2 separate regions of the Homo sapiens genome follow, and region 1 is linked to region 2. Evidence: fine-mapped QTL for protein levels in blood plasma. A gene starts in region 2. The other region holds a variant in brackets. All regions are shown on one strand. Distances are from middle to middle. Region 1 overlaps IL18R1 (interleukin 18 receptor 1). Region 2 holds the start of IL18R1 (interleukin 18 receptor 1).

What was found. PIP is the chance, under the fine-mapping model, that this variant and not a neighbour inherited with it causes the effect. The UK Biobank Pharma Proteomics Project read protein levels with antibody pairs (Olink). The fine-mapping took linkage between variants from a reference panel, not from the people measured, so its PIPs are less certain.
Region 1: its variant is fine-mapped to the plasma level of the IL18R1 protein (UK Biobank, PIP above 0.99).

What each region holds. Positions count from the first base shown.
Region 1 is chr2:102,382,078-102,387,077 of GRCh38, reverse strand. IL18R1 (interleukin 18 receptor 1) reads right to left here. Exons shown (of 11, transcript NM_003855.5): 7 at 2,080-2,200; 8 at 78-217. Among named protein-coding and RNA genes, the nearest start is that of IL18R1, 29 kb to the right of the region's middle. The variant T/C (reference allele first, on the strand shown) is at 1,940.
Region 2 is chr2:102,353,127-102,358,126 of GRCh38, reverse strand. It overlaps IL18R1 (interleukin 18 receptor 1), which reads right to left and starts at 2,331. Exons shown (of 11, transcript NM_003855.5): 1 at 1,727-2,331. RefSeq lists silencers at 2,277-2,336, 2,357-2,466 and an enhancer at 2,061-2,562.

The sequences.
Region 1 (5,000 bases), 29 kb before region 2:
GAAAGTGGCCATCTTTGAAATGTCTCTCAGTAGCAATGAGCTAAGTTTCAAAACTTCCAAAAATAAATCTTTCTCACCTTTTCTCACCAAGATGAAGCTTTTGGTGTCTGTGCCTCCCGTGCTGGCCACAGTGCAATTATATAAAACATTTAGATTGCTTTCACCAATATTTTCAATTCTCAATACTTTTGAAGCATGCCATTTGCCTTCTGGAGTCCTGTAAGAGGGCAAAATAATTTAGCAGTAGGCTCTGTTCGTTACCCTTGAGAGGGGAATTCACATGTTTAAAATGCTTGAAGGCAGCTGTGATGTTGCCTGCATTATTTCTTCCCTTTCTGGCCAGTACTCTTAAAGCATGGACTACAATAAACGTCCCCTCCTCCGTGGAGCATCAGAACTGACAGAAACAGCCCTCCTGAGGCCATTTGGGAATGGTGCTGTCAATTACCTGAAGTTTAAATGGCTGGAAGATCATGATGCTAAGTTGAAAATATAAGAAAATATTCTCTCTCAATTATTTTTCTCTACTTCTCTCTTCCTAACAACTTGGGGTTCTTTCCACAGAGTGGTTCCCACTAATTATGACAAGGCTGTAAGTTGTTTAGCATAGATGCAGATTCGTATTACATTTGTCCATGGAATCCAACAAACTGGTTTAATGTGTTCAGCATTAAAAAACATAACACTGTTCTCAAGCACCCCGAGGCACATGAGAAGTGCCAGTTAAGTTGTTCCATGAGTGTCAGAAAATGACTTGAGAAAGCCACTGGCAGCACGTTCTTTTTCTCTTCCTTAAAGGATTCAAGTTGTCCTGTGGTTGATGCCAGGTAAACACTTATGACATCCACTTCCCCCACCAATGACAGGCTCTGATAGCTACACCAGTCAACACAGCCAGACATGGGCCCCATGTGCCCACATTCCTAGCAACAGGGATATCTAGGACCCGGGACACAGAGCCCCACTGTAGCCTCCAACTGCCTCAAGTACATTTTGGAATGTAATTCTTTTCCTAAGTCACCCATCCAGAAATAACAACCATCTAAAACCAATGAAATCCAGAAGTAAAACACAGGAGGCCATTGAGAGGACAAAACAGATGATATCAAAGGTGTGTGCACCCAACTATAAAGAAAGACCTCTCTGCTTTTGTAGCTTAAGCTGCATTTCTAAGAAATTCACTGTGGTTTTCTACCCCTCTAAAAATTAGAAAGAGATTATCCAAAGGGAGAAATACAAAACTCAAATGGAGGCCAGTGGCTGAGGATGAGATATGATGGCAGGAGATCCACAAATTTCAAATGAATTCAACATGTAGTGGGCATGAACCACATGCCTGCTCCCGGGCAAGAAGCCAGACTTTGTGGTGTAAAGAGCTTGTAGACAAGTGTCAGCAAGAATGTAGAGCTGCAAGCATGGTAACAAAGAAGGTACCAAAAAATGTGTAAAAAGCAGAAGAAAAAACTCAACAAGTGCAGCAAAGGTGGTAGACAACTTAGGCTCAGCACTCACTAGACCCTGAGTAGTGTATCAGTATAATAATGAATACTTACAGTATGACCCAAAGTCATTCAGAAAAGCTTAGGTGACTATATGTTTAGACTGATTCTTTTTATAAGTTTGACCATTCCTTAATGGAAGAATATAGGCTTATTTAACTATCAATATGCATGCCATTTGGAGCCTTTTTGGCCCATTAGAAAAATAAACAACTTAACAAATTTTTCAAAATAAAAAAAAGCTTGGCCTAGGCAACTGCCCTTTTCTAAGAAGCTAAGTAAAATCCCCATCCCCATCGGATCCTGACTGACCAAGTGCTACTTTATAAGGTGATGCTAAATACCCTCAATGGCCTTCTCATGGACCTTCTTTTCCAGCTTAGATCTTGGCAATACATTTCTGCATAATGCGTCCACCTAGGGTATGGCCACTATAATTA[T/C]AAAATATGTCCATTATAATTATAATTTAAACTAGCCCAAAATACACATCAGCCACCCAGTGTTTTTAATATGATGTTATATATAATATATATGATTGTTATATGGTATATATCATGACATATATATTACACATACATACATAATTCTCATTTCTTTCTCTTCATGTATATTAGGATCCGATCCATTTTCTTCCCCGAACATCCAATAAATTACATCCTCTTCATTCAGCAAAGCAGAGCAGTTGAGCCTTACGTTTTTTCCTGGTAAAAGTTGGCAACTAAAGTTCTGATTTTTGAAACTCAGGTTTCTTAAAAGTTTCAAAACAATATAATCAATGTATGTTAACCTAAAGCAAAACGTGGTGCTCCATCCCAGAAAGAGAATAAATATGCCTTGCTTTAAATAAAACAAAATATATAAAGCAGAAGAAATAGGTAGCAATTACAAGTCATCATCAAAACATGATTTGGCTTCTTTTTAAACATTTATTTTTTAATCAACTATTAAAACTTAGAGTGATCAGTGTACTTTCTTTTCGTAGCATCAGGACAATACTCTCACTGAGACTTCTAGATAAACCAAATGGATAAATCACAAAAAAATTAAATTAAGCAAACATTAAAGACATCAAAGTACAGAGAAAATAAAGAGAAATTTTTGAACTACAAGCGTACTTAAGAAGGATCCTTTCTAGGGTGAGCTAAGATAGGTGGCCATTTCATTCCATGGAAGAATTTGCTTTGGTTTGTAATTAACAGAAAGAGTCTCATAGAAACAAGAAAATCCAGTGAAGCTCTCGGCAGCTGCACAGGCTTGCAGAATTACTGCTAAGCGCTCGGACAGCGTAAAAGGATGTAAAGGCTGTATGATATCACTTGCAGTCTCATGGTAATCAGGAGAGCAAGTCTCATTAGAGAAGAGGCCTGCATCAAACACATGACTGCAGCACCCCCTCCCTCACCAGCTATCAGAGATGAAGACAGATTGGAGTGAACATACCTACATCCCAGCCACCCCAACTCAATTCTGAGTCAACTGAGATACTCAACTCTCAGGCTACCTACTTGTAAGAAAAAATAACACAAACTGTATTCACTTTAATTGTTTGATACATAAAGATCAACAACAATAAAAAGTTAAGAGACATACAAAGACACAGAAAATGTGCACCATAATCAATAGAAAAGACAGCTAATAGAAGCAGACCTACAGATGCTGAATTTAGCAGATTAAAAACTGTAACTGTTTGAAAGAAAATAGAGGAAAAGATAAACAAGTGGATGGAAATATGGTCATTTTCAACAAAGTGTAATTTATTTTAAAAAGAATAAATTGAATATTTGTATATCATGCATATATGATATAGCAACTGTAACAGTAATTTTAAATATACAGATGGACTAAACACCATACTGACCATATTTCAAAAAAGACCCAAATACATGCAGTTTATGAGAGACACTTATGTATAGAACAAAAAAAAATGTTAGTAGTAAAGGGATGTTTAAAAAAAGACAAATATGCCAATTCCAAGCAAAAGAAAACTTGTGTGATTATTTCATATGACAGAGCTACACATTGAGAGAGGAAGTGTTATGATAGATAAAGAGAGATATTTCATAATGATAAAAGTGTTAATTCAACGAGCATAAATCCGTGTATGCATATAAGATAGCTCCAAACTATGTAAGACAAAAATTGACAGAACTAAAGGAGATAGAGACACATTGACCATAATAGCTGGAGATATTCACATCTCTTTCAGCAACACATGGAACAAGCAGATAAAAGATTAGTCAGGATATAAATTTTTTGAACAACACCATTAATGAACTTAACCAAATAGACATTTAAAGAATAATAAAACAAAAACCTATAGAATATACCTTTGTTTCAAATGCACTTGGAACATTCAGCAAGATATACCATACTGTGGGCCTTAAGTAAGTCACTACAAATTCCAAAAGGTTGAAATGACACTGTGTATAATCTTGGACTATAATGAATCTAAACTGGACATGAATAAGAGACAAGAACTAGAAAGTTCACCAAATATTTGGAAATTAAGAAATACCAATTTTTTTTGTTGGAAAAAGAAATCATAAGGGAAATTTTAAGTAATGGTTTAAACTGAATAGAATGAAAATATGAGAAACAGCTAAAGTAGTGTTTACAGGGAAACTTGGAGTTTGAAGGTATATACTACCAGAGGATAATTAAAATTAATTATCTAACTCTTCAGGTCAACAAACTAGAACAAAAGATACAAGTTAAGCCCCACTGAGTAGAAGAAAAAAATAAGAAAGACAAAGACAGAAATAAATAAAAATATAAAGCAGGTAAACCTCATGTACAAATGGCATAGGACCCAGCTGCACTGGGCCCATGTGGTCATATAAACCACTGTGACCCCAACTGTGGTTATAAGGTGGGGACTTTGGAAGCAAAGTCCCCAAACAGAGACTTGCCACTTTTTAGTGATTTAACTTTAGACAAGTTACTTAGCCTTTTTGCACTTCAATTATTTAATTCATAAAATGAGAATACATGCCTCAGTGTTGCTTGGAGGATTTAATTCAACAATATATTTCAATGACCTAGCATGATACCTGGCTTAGCATATTTAGCATATGTGAATTTCTTCCTTTCTTTCTTTCCTTTCTCTTTTGAAAGAAATTACTCAATTGGACATGTTGATTCATAAGACTTATCTAGACAAACTCCAAATATACAATCAATTCAGTCAATTGATTCAAAGTGAATCAATTAATCAAACATTCACACCACAAAATTAGTTTGACTCATCTCTCCAGAGTGCTCTCACGGAATTTTTAAATTTATTATTGTTATTATTATTATTATTTTTGAGATAGAGTCTTGCTCCGTTGCCCAGGCTGGAGTGCAGTGGTGTGATTTCAGCTCATTACAACCTTGCCTCCTGGGTTCAAGAGATTCTCCTGCCTCAGTCTCCTGAGTAGCTGGGACTACAGGTGCATGCCACCATGCCTGGCTAATTTTTGTATTTTTAGTAGAGATGGGGTTTCACCGTGCTGGTCAGGT
Region 2 (5,000 bases):
ACAAGGACACACATGAATCAATGTAGATGCCTCAATATAAATCACTCATTAGCAACACATACAATCGAGCAACTCCTGAGACAAAATGCCTGGATGAAAATCATAACACCAGTTTTTTTTTAATATAATTTTTCTTCTACAGTGTTCCATGCATAGTCGTTTTACTCAGCCTGTGAGATGATAAAACAACCAAATGCAAAGAGGAGAAAATGATCTTGGGGCATAACATACACACACACACACACGCTTAAACTCTAACAAACAAAATAATTTGTGTGGAATCTGGCTTCTCATCTGTAAGGCCAAGAAAATCAATGCCACCTCATAGTCCTTGTCACACAAGTGTCTGTTGTTAGCCTTATGCTTCCCCCCAAATCTGCCTATGCCTGTGCTACCTGGGCCACCCTCCCCACTTATCCCAGATGCCAGGTCCCTAGAGTCCTTTCAACTTGGCTCAGTATTTGCCTTCTCAAGGAAGCTCTCCAACTGCAACAGCCCCAAATGGCACATGCCTATGTCCAAGCCCGTCTCCATCACTCTGCAGGTGTTTCCATCACTCCTGGACTAGCTCCCACTCTCTGGTGAGGTCCCTGAAGGCAGGGACCCTGCCTTTTCTTTTTTTTCTTTTTTTTTTTTGAGATAGAGTCTCACTCTGTCGCCCAGGCTGGAGTGCAGTGGCACAATCTCTGCTCACTGCAACCTCTGCCTCCCAGGTTCAAGGGATTCTCCTGCCTCAGCCTCCCGAGTAGCTGGGATTACAGATGCATGCCACCATGCCTGGCTAATTTTCTGTATTTTTAGTAGAGACGGGGTTTCACCATGTTAGCCAGGATGGTCTCGATCTCCTGACCTCATGATCCGCCCACCTCAGCCTCCCAAGTGCTGGGATTTAGACCCTGCCTTTTCAATCCACATTCCTAGGCCTTAGCCTTAGTTCTCAGCCTTTGGATGTATATTTGTGCAGGGAGAGGGAAAACACTGTCCCCAGAACCTGCACAAACCCAATTCCCCAAATTTACCCCTCCTAGCCCATCCAAGGCCCTGAGGTTGAGAGGTGTGCTCCCAATAGCAGCACTGTGTATGACACAAAATCAGTATTTGCAAAGGGTCTTGAGAATGAAGCAAGGGAAGTCAGTGAAATGAATACAATAATCTTGGATCTCTGTATCTGGCTGCAATTGACACCTCATTAATTTGTCTGATAACTGCGATGCAAGGTGCTGGGCATTTTAACTTCCCAAGGCTGGGCAGAAAAAAGACAAAGGCTCTGGAATCAGAAAAACTGTAGGTGTGGATCTGGGATCTACTACTTAGTAGCTGGATACTCTTGGGTAAATGACGGAATTCCTCCTCCCTTTTATTAAAGCATAATAATAGTTCCTATTTCATGTGGCCCTTAGGAGGATTAAGTGAAAATAAGATATCTAAAAATTTTCTACAGTGTCAGGCACACAGTAAGCACTTAAAAAATGACAACTATTGTTATCATTTATTTCAGTCGTTCTCACCTCTCCAGAAAATAATTGGGGATGTCTTAATTTCTAAAACTATACTTTCAGAGAAAGACAGGATGCTGTCTCATCAATTATTCACACGTATTCACACACACACTATCTCTCTCTCTCTCTTAATTGATCTTGTTTTGAGAATCCCTCCCCGGATGGTGGTCTTCCCTTCCTCTGGGGGGTGGGGAGGGGATGCGGGTGGCAGCGGAGCCCACCCTTACCTTCAGAGAGGCGTCCCCGAGGCTGGGGCGGGGGCGGCAGCTCCTCCTTCACGCCAGGTCGCGACTGCGGAGGCCAAGTTCAGAAAGTAGGTGAGAAGCAGCGATCTCCGCCTCCTGACTACCGTGGAAAGTGAAAGAGAGGTGTGATTAAAGAGATAAGGCACCCAGAGAGGGCTACAAAAAAAAAAAAAAAGAAGAAGAAGGAAAAAAAGTAGGAACAGAAAGAAGAATGTCAGGCGTCTGGCAGCTCCTGGCTGCTAACCCCGGCCGGTGGAGGCTGCAGGTGGGCACTGCCCGCGGTCGGGCGAAGCTCCGGGTCCGGGAGTGTAGCGGTCTGGGGCGCTCTCAGTCTGGGGCGCTCCCTGGCGTAGAATCCTCCCTGACTCGGAGGTCCCGGTCTGGGGACCCTCCGGTCCGGGTGCTCCTCGCAGCCGTGCTCCAGGACCGGCTCCTCCACCCAGACGCCCCGCGTGGAGTTACCGGAGCTACTGGATCGCGGGGTCCAAAGGTTGCTGCTGGAAAACCCAGCGCCTTGCCCTTTTCCCGCGGACGGCGTGGGCCCCAGGCGTCTGGCGCTTCCTGCCCAGCCGCGCGGCGCGGGTCCCGGGAAAACCCGGGCTGTAGCCGGGTGACCTGCGGGGCCGGAAGGGGGCGCGCCCGGGCCGCTCGCAAGCACCCTGCAGGCCGCGGTTCACAGCAGAGGATGCCAGGAGGGAGGACCGCTGGCCGCAGCGGCCGCCCGGCTCTTCAGAGGAAGAGGAGGGGAGGGCTGAGGGTGGAAGAGGGGTCCCCGGGGGATGCCGAAGGTGAGAGGGGCTCCGCGTCTCAAGTACACAAATGCGCCCCAGGCTTTTTGCTTTCCCAGAAGGATGGGAGTTCACTATAGGGAAGTAATAGAGAGGGGTGCAATTGTTGAAGTTTTAATTTTTTTTAAGGAGGCCAAAGGGGAATGTGTGTTTCTAGATTTTTATTTTGTGGCAGAACTGTTATTTAACCAAAGGAAAAGGGAAACCCATAGCCGACAGGCAAAATGTTCAATTGGACAATGATTTTAATTCTTTTTACCCAATTTAGATAATTCACCACATAATAAATAAAAATATGTAATTATCTCAATAAATGCAAATAAAAGCATCTGGCAAAATTCAACACCCTTTCTGAATTAATAACGATCAGAAAACCGAGAGTAGAAATGATCTTTCTTAATCTGATAAAGAACATCTATAAGAAACCTACAGGTGACCTCATAATAGTGAAACATTTTACTTTTTCCTAAGATTAGTAATGAGATAAGGATTTTGGCTCCCACCTGGGACAACTGCTTTGCAACAAGTGAAGAAATAAAAATAAAATTAGAAAGCATAAAGATTGAGAAGAAAGAATTAAAACTACTGGTTTTAACAGAGAGCATAATTATATGTAGACCAACTTTTGAAATCTACAAAAAAAAAAACTACTGGAAATATTAAGTTTATCAAGATCATGGAATATAAAAATCAATAGCAATTCTATATATTAGAGATGGAAACTTGAAAAGTGAAGTTTGTTAAAAATGCCATTTACCATAGCATTTAAAAATCAAAATACCAAAGTATAAATTCATTGGATAATATATGAGATATCTCCTGTGAAAACTACAAAATATTGCTAACAGAGATGAAACATCTAAGTAATAAAGGGATATACCACGTTTACGGATTGGAAGACTTAAGACATCTATTCTCCACACTGTATATTTTTAGACTCTATATATTACAGAATCTATATATTTAATACAATTCAATCCAAATCCCAGGAAAATTTTTCAAAGAAATTAAGAAGCTGTTTCTAAAATTCATATGAAAATGCAAATAATCTAGGATTGTCCGGACAGAGACGGAGTTTTGCTCTTCTTGCCCAGGCTGGAGTGAGTGCAATGACGCGATCTCGGCTCACTGCAACCTCCGCCTCCCGGGTTCAAGCGATTCTCCTGCCTCAGCCGCCCGAGTAGCTGGGATTACAGGCATGCACTATCACGCCTGGCTACTTTTGTATTTTTAGTAGAGACAGGGTTTCTCCGTGTTGGTCAGGCTGGTTTTGAACTCTCGACCTCAGGTGATCCACCCATTTCAGCCTCCCAAAGTGTTGAAATTACAGGGGTGAGCCACCTGCCCGGCCTGTCTGGGCAATCTTGACAAAGATGAACAAAGTTGAGAGACTTATACTGACTTGAGGATTTATAATAAGGCAATAGTAATTATGGCAATGTGATATTCACAGAAACATACAAACATACAAAATAGAAAGTAGACTAATAGATCCACACATATCTAGTCAATTGATTTTTTTAACAAAGCACCATGTCAATTCAGTGGGGAAAAAACAGTCTTTCACAAACATTGCTGGAACAGCTGGGTACCTCTACAGAAGAAGCAGCAGCAGAAAAAAGAACTTTGTCCTTGCCTTGTTCTATATACAAGTATCAATTCACAATAGACCATGGACCTAAACATAAAAGCTAGAACCGTAAATATTTCATAAAAATACAGAGAAGACCCTTGAACAGGCAAAAAATAAATAAATAAATCATGCTCTTGGACAGGCAAAAAAAAAAAATTCTTAGCTAGGACACAAAAAAAAATAGCCATTTGGGACACATTGATTAATTGGACATCACCAAAATTAAAAATGTCTACTAAACAAAGACATCACTTAAAAATGAATAGATAACCCTGGAAATATTCTCACTTTACATCTATCTGGCAAAGAACTTGCATCCACAATACATAAATAATTCCTACACATCAACAATATAAAAAGAAATACAATTTAAATAAGGCAAAATATTTTGCCTTCACTAAAAAATATATACGAATGGCCAATGAAAACATGAAAAGGGCTCATCATCATGAGTCGGGGAACTTCAAGTTAAGACCATGGTGATCTTCATCTAACACCTGTGAAAATTGTTAAAATATAAAGAAACTTGACAACACCAATTATTGGTGAGGCAATGAAGCAGCAGAGCTCTCATACACAACTGGTGGGAATGTAAAGTAGTACAATTAGTTTGCGAAACAATGTATAAGTTTCTCTGAAAGTTAAATATGCACCTACCCTATGACCACTCTTAAGTGTCAAAATAAAATCATAAGTCCACAAGTATGTTCATAGGAGACTCTGTCTCAAATACATATATATAATATTATATATATAAAATATTCTATATAAAATATATATTATATTATATATAATATTCTATATAAAATATATATTATATTATATATAATATTCT